Regions from separate parts of the Homo sapiens genome. Here region 1 is linked to region 2. Evidence: fine-mapped expression QTL. A gene starts in region 2. The other region holds a variant in brackets. All regions are shown on one strand. Distances are between the middles of the regions.

Region 1 (5,366 bases), 25 kb before region 2:
CATCCCAGCCATGTCACTTAATCCACAGGATCTGGGAGTGCTCATGGCTAATTCTTTTTTTTTTTTTTTTTTGAGACAGAGTTTCGCTCTTGTCACCCAGGCTGGAGTGCAGTGGTGCAATCTCACCTCACTGCAACCTCCACCTCCTGGGTTCAAGCGATTCTCCTGCCTCAGCCTCCTGAGTAGCTGCGATTACAGGTGCCTGCCACCATGCCCAGCTAATTTTTTGTATTTTTAGTAGAGACGGGGTTTCGCCATGTTGGGCAGGCTGGCCTCGAACCCCTGACCTCAGGTGATCCGCCTGCTTCTGCCTTCTAAAGTGCTGGGATTACAGGTGTGGGCTACCACGTCCGGCTGCTCATGGCTAATTCTAATAGCCCTTGCTAAAATGACACCCCATTCCAGAACATCCTGCCAGCCCCATGCCTGGCCCCTCACCCTGTCCCCTCTTTCTTAACCACCCCCCACAGACACCATGACCTTGCTTGCTTTTCTGATAGTCCTCCAAGCCTGATTCTCAGGAATTCTGTGCTCTAGGTGCCCCCGAAGCCTCCTGCTTGGGTGGTGCTCACATTGTCATTAATCCCCAGCAGGGCAGCTCTGGAAAGAGGTGTCCTGAGATCTCCTCCCCAGGGTCTTTGACTCAGAGGAGCCACTCTGGCCTCCCAGAGCCTCTCAAGGTGTCATCTATTTCATCCTCAAAACAAGACGCCAGGAGGACAGGGATGAAAATCATGTGAGATGGGGACGTGAGCACAGGGCAAATGACTTGCCAAAGTCACTTGCCACTTAGCTGCTGGGTTAGGATGCAAAGTCCCACCTCAGGTTTGCAGCAGGGACCAAGCATCAAGGAGGGGTCACAATGACATTTTTTTTTCTAAACATGAATTTTCTTTTTTTAATTCAATGTATAGGCCGGGCGCAGTGGCTCACGCCTGTAATCCTAGCACTTTGGGAGGCCAAGGCAGGCAGATCACTTTAGGTCAGGAGTTCGAGACCAGCCTGGCCAACATGGTGAAACCACGTCTCTACTAAAAATACAGAAATTAGCCGGGAATTGCTTGAACCTGGGAGGCGGAGGTTGCAGTGAGCTGAGATCATGCCACTGCACTCCAGCCTGGGCAACAGAGCAAGAATCTGTCTCAAAAATAATAATAATAATAAAAAATAATAATTCAATGTGTAGAATCACTTAGAGTCATTCTTATCTGCACTGGGTTTTTTTTGTTTGTTTGTTTTTTTGTTTGTTTTTTTTGAGACGGAGTCTCGCTCTGTCGCCCAGGCTGGAGTGCAGTGGCGCGATCTCAGCTCACTGCAAGCTCCGCCTCCCGGGTTCACACCATTCTCCTGCCTCAGCCTCCTGAGTAGCTGGGACCACAGGCGCCCGCCACCACGCCTGGCTAATTTCTTTGTATTTTTTTAGTAGAGATGGGGTTTCACCGTGTTAGCCAGGATGGTCTCGATCTCCTGACCTCGTGATCCACACGCCTCGGCCTCCCAAAGTGCTAGGATTACAGGCGTGAGCCACCACGCCTGGCCATGTTTTTTGTTTTTGTTTTCCAAGACGGAGTCTCTCTCTGTCACCCAGGCTGGAGTGCAATGAGCGATCTCAGCTCACTGCAACCTCTGCCTTCCGGGTTCAAGTAATTCTTCTGCCTCAGCCTTCCGAGTAGCTGAGATTACAGGCACATGCCACCATGGCCAGCTAATTTTTGTATTTTTTGTGGAGGCGGGGACTTACTATGTTGGCCAGGCTGGTCTCGAACTCCTAACTTCAGGTAATCCTCCCGCCCCGTCCTCCCAAAGTGCTGGGATTACAGGCGTGAGCCACTGCGCCTGGCCTGTCTGTACTATTAAATTGTCTTAAATGTAGCTGGCGGATGCCCCTGCCAGCTGGCTCCTGTGCCCGTTGACAAGACCCTCATCGATGGTAGCTTCCTCACTCTCTGGCACCAGATGCCACCTTGCCTTTGGCTGCCTTCCTTGTCTCTACATATAGATATACACACACACAAACGCTTTCCCCCATAACTCTGTCCCTTGGGTCTGCCCACACCCTGACCCACTCTCACTTCCCCCACCTGACAGGGAAGTGACACACAGCTAGCTCTCTTCCACCCAGGTAGCCTCAAGAAGAAGACCCCACTCCTTCACACACCCAACTCCCTATGGGAGATGCTAAGCGTCCCCAGAATCCTCTGTGCCCTGTGTCTCTGTAGTGGCTCTCCTGATTTTCAGCAGGACACACGGCCATCTGGCTGGTGATCACACTTCCTAACCTCCTTGCACCTTGATGTGGCTGAATGACCAAGTTCTGGGGTGTGAGCAGGAGTGATGTGTGCCACTTTCTGGTGGCCGCTAGCCATCCCCAGTTCTCAGGGCTAGAACACATCCGTGGGGATGATACAGTCCACTCATTCGTGTGAGGACAACCCTCTCGTCTACACCCAGTGGCATAAGAAATGTGCTCCATGGAGCAGCACCTGCGAGCTTGTTAAAAATACAGAATTGGGCCAGGTGCAGTGGCTCACACCTGTAATCCTAGCACTTTGGAAGGCCAAAGTGGGTGGATCACCAGAAGTCAGGAGTTCAAGACCAGCCTAACCAACATAGAGAAATCCCGTCTCTACTAAAAAATGCAGGAGAATCGCTTGAACCCGGGAGGCGGAGGTTGCAGTAAGCCGAGATCGCACCATTGCACTCCAGCCTGGGCAATAAGAGCAAAACTCCGTCTCAAAAAAAAAAAAAAAAAGAAGAAATACAGAATTGTCCGGGCCTGGTGTCTCACACCTGTAATCCCCGTACTTTGGGAGGCTGAGGCTGGTGGATCACTTGAGTTCAGGAGTTCAAGATCAGTCTGAGCAACATGGCAAAATCCCATCTCTACTAAAAATACAAAAATTATCCAGACATGGTGGCGTGCACCTGTAATCCCAACTACTCAGGAGGCCAAGGCAGGAGAATCACTTGAACCCGGGAAGCAGAGGTTGCAGTGAGCCAAGAATGTACCACTGCACTCCAGCCTGGGCAATAGACATTGTCTCAAAACAACAAAAAAAAGACATACAGAATGGCAAGCCCTCTGCAGCAGGCCTGCAGAGAGACAGAGAGAGAGAGAGAGAGAGAGAGAGAGAGAGAGAGAGAGAGAGAGAG[A/T]GAGAGTGTGTGTGTGTGTGTGTGTGTGTGTGTGTTTTAGATTGTTTATTTGTTTGGGCTTTTTTTTTTTTCCAAATTTTTTGTAAGAGATGGGTGTCTCACTATGTTACCCACGATGGTCTCAAACTCCTGGCCTCAAGTGATCCTTCCGCTTCCGCCTCTGCCTGCACCTCCCAAAGTGCTGGAACTACAGATGTGAGCCACTGCACCCAGCCTCCTGTTTTTCTTTTCTTTTAAGACACGGGTTCTTGCTCTGTCACCCAGGCTGGAGTGCACTGATGCAATCATAGCTCACTGTAACCTCCAACTCCTGTGCTCAAGCGATCCTCCGACCTGAGCCTCCCCTCCCCAGTAGCTGGGACCACAGGCGTGCACCACCACACCTGGCTAATTTCTGTTGTTGTTATTGTTGTCGAGACAGGTCTTGCTATGTTGTCCAGGCTGGTCTCAAATTCCTGGCCTCAAGCAATCCTCCTACCTTTGCCTCCCAAAGTGTTGGGATTACAGGCATGAGCCACCGTGCCTGGCCCTGGAACCTGCAATTTAATGAAACCACCCAGGGTACTCATGTGCATTTTGAACTCTGAGCTCTGCCCTAGGGGCTGGTAGAGCTACAAGATAGAAATCCCAATTCTGGAATTTTAGAGCAGAGCCATTGTTGAGGTCTAAACTATTACACGAGAGAGAAATAAACTTCTGTCTTATTCGAGCCACTGTATTTAGGGCTTCTTTGCTACAGCGGCTTTGCCTATACCAATACAGCACCTAAGCCTGCTGCAGGGAGCTCCTTCCCCTCGCCTAACAGCAGTACCTTGACCAGTGGCCACTGGTTGGGCTGGTTGAGCAGCTTCACGATGGCTGGGATGCCATAGTTGAGACGCACAGAGTTCTGGGCCATCTCGGCCTCAGGGTGGCGGCTAGTGAGGTGGCGCAGAGCGCAGACGGCAGGCTCCGTGATGTCGTCCTTGTCACCAGCACGCAGGATGGCATGGATGAGAGCCTCCACACCGCTGTTCTGTGTCACCAGCGTCTTGTTCTTGCTGTTGTTGCATGTCAGGTTGGAGAGTGTGCCCGTGGCACAGGTGAGGACGTTGACGTCATCCACACTCAGCTGATTCACCAGAATCTTCAGCACACTCTCCAGGCCCTCCTGGAGGGCAAGGAAGGGACGGGGGAGTCAGGGAGCAGCCAACTCCAGGGAGCCTTCTCGAATATGTCCAAGGGGAGTGGGATGACCTAAAGGGGTCAGCCCTGCCTGTGTGTGCCCGGGAACTTTCATCCCTATGACCCGCCACACCCTGTGAGAGGGCGTTACTATCCTGTGGTGCAAGTGAGGCAATGAGGCTCAGAGAGGTTGGGGAACTTGCCCACAGACACACAGCTAGTGGCTGGATCTGAACCCAGGCTTGGCTCTAAGCCCCACATCTCTTCCCTCCAACTCATCAGCCTTTCCCTGGGGCCCTCAGACCCAGGCAGAACCCTCCTCAGGCCAAAGTACGGTGGCCAAGGGAGGCCTCGAGACCAGGAGGCAATTGTTGAGGGGGCCGCATGATTCAGTGGCCCAGCTGAGCCATGTCTACTCGCTTGTCACCTTTCTGGGCCTTCACTGCTGCCCCACCACCCTGGGGCCCTGAGCCAAATCCATTTCCAGTAAAATCACTACCTCAGACGTCTATCTCACTTCTCCCAGGGAGACACGTGGGCCTTGTGGTGGAACAGAAAAACCCCAGCTTTGGGGACGGACAGTCCTGGGTTCAAATCCCAGTTCTGCCATTTACTACCTGTGACCATGGCCATTAGCTCCCCGAGCCTCAGTGTCTTCATCTAACCCACAGGGTCCCACACTCTAACCCCAGGTTGAATGAGCTACTGTCCACAAATGCCACGCAGAGGGCCAGCACAGGGTGAGCACTTGATAAACAGCATATTGCTAGGGGAGGCCTGGGGAATGGTTGTTGGAAGGAGGCACAGGGCACTTGCCCTGGAGCTGCATTTTTCCTTAAATTGTATTTTTAGTCATGGGGGCCTGTCTCTTGGTACACTATTGCTCCAGCCCAGGGCCCAGGTCAAAACTGTTCTTTTGCTGGATGTGGTGGCTCACGCCTGTAATCCCAGCACTTTGGGAGGCCAAGGCGGGTGGATCACCTGAGGTCAGGAGTTCAAGACCAGCCTGCCCAACATGGTGAAACCCTGTCTCTAATAAAAATACAAAA
Region 2 (5,366 bases):
GTGACAGAGCGAGACTCCATCTCAAAAAAAAAAAAAAAAAAAAAAAAGAAAGTGCTTGGTTTCTGTAAAGTCTTACCTTGATCTTGAGTTACCGTTTGTCAAGTACTTACTGGGTAGATAGGTATTAGTATTCCCATTTTGCCAAAGAGGTCACTGAGGCTCAGGTAATGAGAGACAGAGCTGGGTCTCAAACCCAGCTCAGTTCAAGCCCAAAGCCCTGTGCTCAGAACTGCCCCACTGTCCCATCTCTCCAAATAAACAGTCCTTCTGTAGACTAGTCAATTGACCCATCTCACTCTAAGGTGGCTCCAGGATGGGAAAAAGGTTGGCAGCCCTAGCCCGACCTTTTTCGTTCCTATGCACTGCATTCTCAAAGCCTCGGCCCTGGCAGCCCAAACAGAGGCTCCAGAGGGAATGGGGTGGAGCCAGGGTGCAAGGGAGGGGTGGAGTGGGGGTGGGAGGGCTCAAGTCACCCAAGCTGGGGCTTGATCTAGCAAGAAATGACTAACTGGGTCCTACCTTCTCCTCCTCCCCCGCATCCCCCAGTCCAGTCAGTGGCCAGTTTTCACCAAGCACCTCCTAGCAGTACTTCCTCAGTATTATCTTTTCATCACAGCCACAAACCAGATTAGCTAAACTAATCATGTAGCCAACATAATTACAATGCCCTCCCCTCCTCCACCTTGGCACAGAGAAGAGGGAAAGCAGGTTATTTTTGCCCAAACTCCCTGCTCCTGTTGCTCCCCAGAGGTGCAGAATCCCATCCCCCGGCAGAAAAGGATCTGAGTTCCCACACTGACTTCCCCCTAGCACAGGGCTGAGCGTGATCCCCACCCAGGATAAAGGGGCTGAGTCTGGGCCCCCAGCCTCACTCCCCCATCTACAACAAAGAAAGAGGTGGTAGACTCTTCCCCTCCAAGCACTCTCGATCCCCGCCCCCCACAATCTTTCTCCCACCCCCAGGACTGAGAGAGAACCCAACTGTTGTATTCTCTCTCTGTTCCCCAACGAGGCTGGGCTCCAAATCCTGCAAAAAGACCACATTTCAGATTTTTTTTTTAAACCGGGGTACAAACCCTGATCAAGATCCCCAATTCTGGGTGGGGGGGGGCGGTCTCAGGAAATTGGGAGCAGGGAAGGCAGGGGGCCCGATGCAGCTCTGCCTGAGAGAGTCTAGCATTGAAGAAACCTTCCCCCAAAAAGCCTTCCTGCGGTCTCACTTTCCCTGTCAAATTCTTTCAGGAAAGCGGGTGGGAAAGGTCTGTGCAGGCCTCCAGAAAGCATGCACCTTCACAATTCAGAAATCAAATGGAAGGCAAGTCCCACAGCCTCATGCGCTTCTGCCTCAATAACCAGCCAGCTAAGTAATGTGGGGGATGGGGTAGAGGCAAAAAAAAAAAGACAAGAACAACCACTCCCCCCACCTTCCTCAGTTTGGCCCAGCCCTGCCCCACCCCCATTCCTGGGGAGGGGGCAGAGCTTGAGAGACAACCACTTACGCAGGCCTTGTCTGAGGGGGTGTGGTGGTCCCAGGAGGCAGGAAGAGAAGGAAGAAGCTGCTTCCCCTCTCAGCACTTTCCACCCCCCACCCCGGCCCCTACCTCAGGCCCCTGGGGCCCAGCGAACAGGATGAATGTGGGGGCAGGGAAGACAGGGTCGGAGCCCAGGCACCGGCCCAGGTTCAGCCAGGGGCCGGCTGGGGGAAGGGGTTTTGCACCAGGAAGGACCCCCTAAGCCTAAAGGAAGTTTTGGGCAAGGAGACGGGAAAACCCCCAGATAAAGCTGCTGTGAATACTTCCTCCTGCAAAGTTTGTTTTGGGTGATTTTTTCCAACAATAAGAGGTTAGAGAAGACGGGTCCTGTTCCCCTACCAACACTCTGGCAGCCACAGCTACTGGAAACTGGGCCAGGTGACCCTGAATTCTTCATCCGTGCACAGACCCCACCCCCCAGACCCCAGGGCGAGCCACGGGTGCCAGACACCAGCTGGACACTGAGCCGAGCCCTGCACCCCCCAGTCACTCCATCCCACCTCCGCTGAAGAAGCCAGAGCCGGGCTCCCACCGGCGTGGAGGGAGGCGCCGCAGGTAGTATCGACGAGGCTCTGGGAGCTGGAGGGCAGGGCCTCTGGACTCCGTGCGCTCACCTGCTCGGCAGGTGGGGCCAGAGTCGCTGGGAAAATGTGCGCTCGGCCCCCACAGTTGGGCAAGCTGGGCGCAAACAATAGGGCCCCACCCAGGCCTGGGGGAGTAGGGAGGGAGGGAAAGCGAGGATGACGCGTGGGGTGGGGTGAGGGTGGCCCCAAAGAGACCAGCGGCAGCAAGTTCCCCAAACGGTAAATTCCTGACTGCAGCGTGAGCCCTGGGACGCAGTCGAAGCAGAGCAAAGTCTCCCCCGCCAGCCCAGGGCGAGAGTCAGGGACGCGGCGTCGGGCGAGCTGCGCGGGCCCCGGGGGAGGCGCGACCCCGGAGGCACCTGTCCGGATCCCTCCCCGCCTTGCTCAGATCTCTGGTTCGCGGAGCTCCGAGGCGCGCTCGGCCCGAACCGCGCGACCCCCAAGTCGCCGCGCCCAGGACCCCAGCGCGCCCCCTGCCGCCGGTGCAGGGTGGCGCTCGATGGCACCGGCCCTCACCTGCCCAGGGACGGCTGGGACCGGCCCCGCGGCCGCTCGCCACCCCTCTGTCCCCAACGATACCTGCGCCCCCGATAGCCCGCACCTGAGTATGGGGCCTGACCGGGCCGGGTCGGGGTCGGGCCGGGGTGGGAGCCGGCGCGGACAGCGAACTGAGCTCGGCGTGGTCGGGCGGCGGCTGCTCCGGACTCTGGCCAAGGCAGCAACTCAGTAACCGAACAAAAGGCGAAGAGACCTGACAGCCAAGCCACGCCCCTCGCCACCTCGAAGCTCCGCCCCTGGGGGAGACGCCCACCCTCTGGTGCGAGCTCACTGGCTATCTCGCCTGACTGTCCCGTGGAGGGGCGGAGCCTCGCCTCCAGTCCTCTTCCACGGCCGCCTCTGTTTATCCGCTTGCCATTGGCCCCGGGGACTGCCAGTCGGCTCTAGGGATGGACTCTAACTTGAGGTCTCATCCTAACATTGCATCTATTGGCAGATAGAAAGTTACTTCCTCCTGATTGGACAAGGCTCTGTCAGTAAGACTAAGGAAAAAACCAATGGAAGGGATGGGGTGTGTCTTGCCCCACCCTTGCTCTGAGCAGGTGAGACTCATTACTCTCCCCTTCCCCCTACCTGTCCAACAGGTAAGTCATAGGGATACCAAGGGAAGGGACAGACGCCTTCACCGGCCAGCCAACTCAGCGTCAGGCATGATGCTTCTTTGGGCTTATTCATCCTTGCCCCAAAGTAGTAATCACATATTTGTATAGCATTTCATAGGCTTTGTGCTGGGGTGGGATTTTTTTCCCGAAAGATGGAGTACTCCTGGGATTTAGAATTAGAAGGCCAGGTTTGGTCTTCTCCCACTTGGTATGATTTTAGGCAAGTTACTTCACCCTGTTTCTCCTCTTCTGTAAACTGGATACATTAGCCATATCTACCTCACTGGAGTATGTGGGGATTAAATGAGGTCAGGTTTGTGAAAGCACTCAGAAACTGCTAAAGGTTAGAAATTTAAATTAACGGTATGTTTTTTTTTAATTATTGTGACAGCTCTGAAAAATAGTTAGGATGAGAAAACGACCCTCATTGTAAAGATGAAGAAACCGAAGTTCAGAGAAGTCACAAAACTACAAAGTGGCACACCCCAAGCTAGAACCTCCTTCCTCTCATTTGAAGGACCATCAAACCAGCTGTTCCCCTCATGGAAGAGGAGCATAGACATAAAATGTCAAGGCAATGGGGAAGGGGCAGAGAAAAGGCACAAACACTTGGAGGAGAGACAGAACAATTAATTGGCACAAAAATACAGTATTGGTGTCAGGAGGCTTTGGTGGGCTTGGAAACATCAAGCAGCAGATCTGAAGGAAATCCAGCCCTGGCATGAAAGAAACGGGGCAGGCCAGGCGCAGTGGCTCACTCCTGTAATCTCAGCATTTTGGGAGGCAAAGGCGGGTGGATCACCTGAGGTCGGGAGTTCAACACCAGCCTGGCCAATATGGTGAAGCCCCATCTCTACAAAAAATACAAAAAGTTAGCCGAGCGTGGTGGCGGGCAACTATAATCCCAGCTGCCTGGGAGACTGAGGCAGGAGAATTGCTTGAACCTGGGAGGCGGAGGTTGCAGTGAGCCGAGACCATGTCACTGCACTCCAGCCTGGGCATGACAGAGCGAGACTCCATCTCAAACAAAAAAAAAAAAAAGAAAAGAAAAAAATAAACCGGGCAGCACACCCCTCTGCGATAGGAGAGCCTGGGGTAGAGATCAGAGAGAACTTCTCGGCCAGGCGTGGTGGCTCATGCCTGTAATCCCAGCAATTTGGGAGGCCAAGGTGGGCAGATCACTTGAGGTCAGGAGTTCGAGACCAGCCTGGCCGACATGGTGAAACCCCATCTCTACTGAAAATACAGAAATTAGCCAGGCATGGCAGCGGGCACCTGTAATGCCAGCTACTCGGGAGGCTGAGGCAGGAGAATGGCGTGAACCCGGGAGGCAGAGGTTGCAGTGAGCTGAGATCATGCCATTGCACTCCAGCCTGGGTGACAGAGTGAGACTCTGTCTCAAAAAAATAAAAAGGACTTCTCACAGGCAGCTTAAGAAGACAAGGGCACTTCCTTTCTGTGGTTGATGACATGAATGCTGCTCGTGGCTGTATGGTGTGCCAAGGGCCCTACAAACATTCCTTCATTCAACACTTGAGTATTCATTGTCAACTGTATGTTAGGCACTGGTGAACACAGAAAATAAAACCTGGTGACACAGGAAATAAAAATGATCCCAACCTTCAAAGAGCTCATAGAAGGATAAGCAGAAGCAGCGTGTGTGGGTGGGTTTTGGAGGAGTGGTGGTTTAGAAAAGGGTCCCCCATCAACAAAGCTCTACAGCCCCAAAGCTAGCACACAGGATGGGCTGGATGAAGGTACCTTAGCAGCAACCTTGACCACTTTCCCCACCAGAGAAAAGAATGGTAGCTGAACATTCTCCCTTCTGAAGTTGCGCCATCCAAAAGCAGGGCCAGGGAGATACGGACATCCCTGAACTAGTGGCCATCCCATAACCAGGGCCACCGCCCTTTGCCTGTTTCCTCAACTCTCCATCCTCCAGCTTACCTCCCTATCTTTATCCCTGCCTTACCCCTGCCCCATCCACCTGCTTGTCACCCTGTCACATAGAGCTGTAGCCAGGCCACAGCTGGGGAAGGAATGGGCTCACAATCCTGGACTGCTGCAGCTGCCAGGGTTTCATTTCTTCC

What was found. PIP is the estimated chance that this variant, and not a neighbour inherited with it, causes the effect.
Region 1: its variant is the best candidate, but not a certain one, in a credible set for the expression of JUP in whole blood (INTERVAL, PIP 0.56).

Annotation. Positions count from the first base shown.
Region 1 is chr17:41,759,019-41,764,384 of GRCh38, forward strand. It overlaps JUP (junction plakoglobin), which reads right to left. Exons shown (of 14, transcript NM_002230.4): 8 at 3,965-4,303. Among named protein-coding and RNA genes, the nearest start is that of JUP, 25 kb to the right of the region's middle. The variant A/T (reference allele first, on the strand shown) is at 3,154.
Region 2 is chr17:41,783,871-41,789,236 of GRCh38, forward strand. JUP (junction plakoglobin) reads right to left here and starts at 2,841. Exons shown (of 14, transcript NM_002230.4): 1 at 2,718-2,841. RefSeq lists silencers at 2,133-2,345, 2,510-2,809.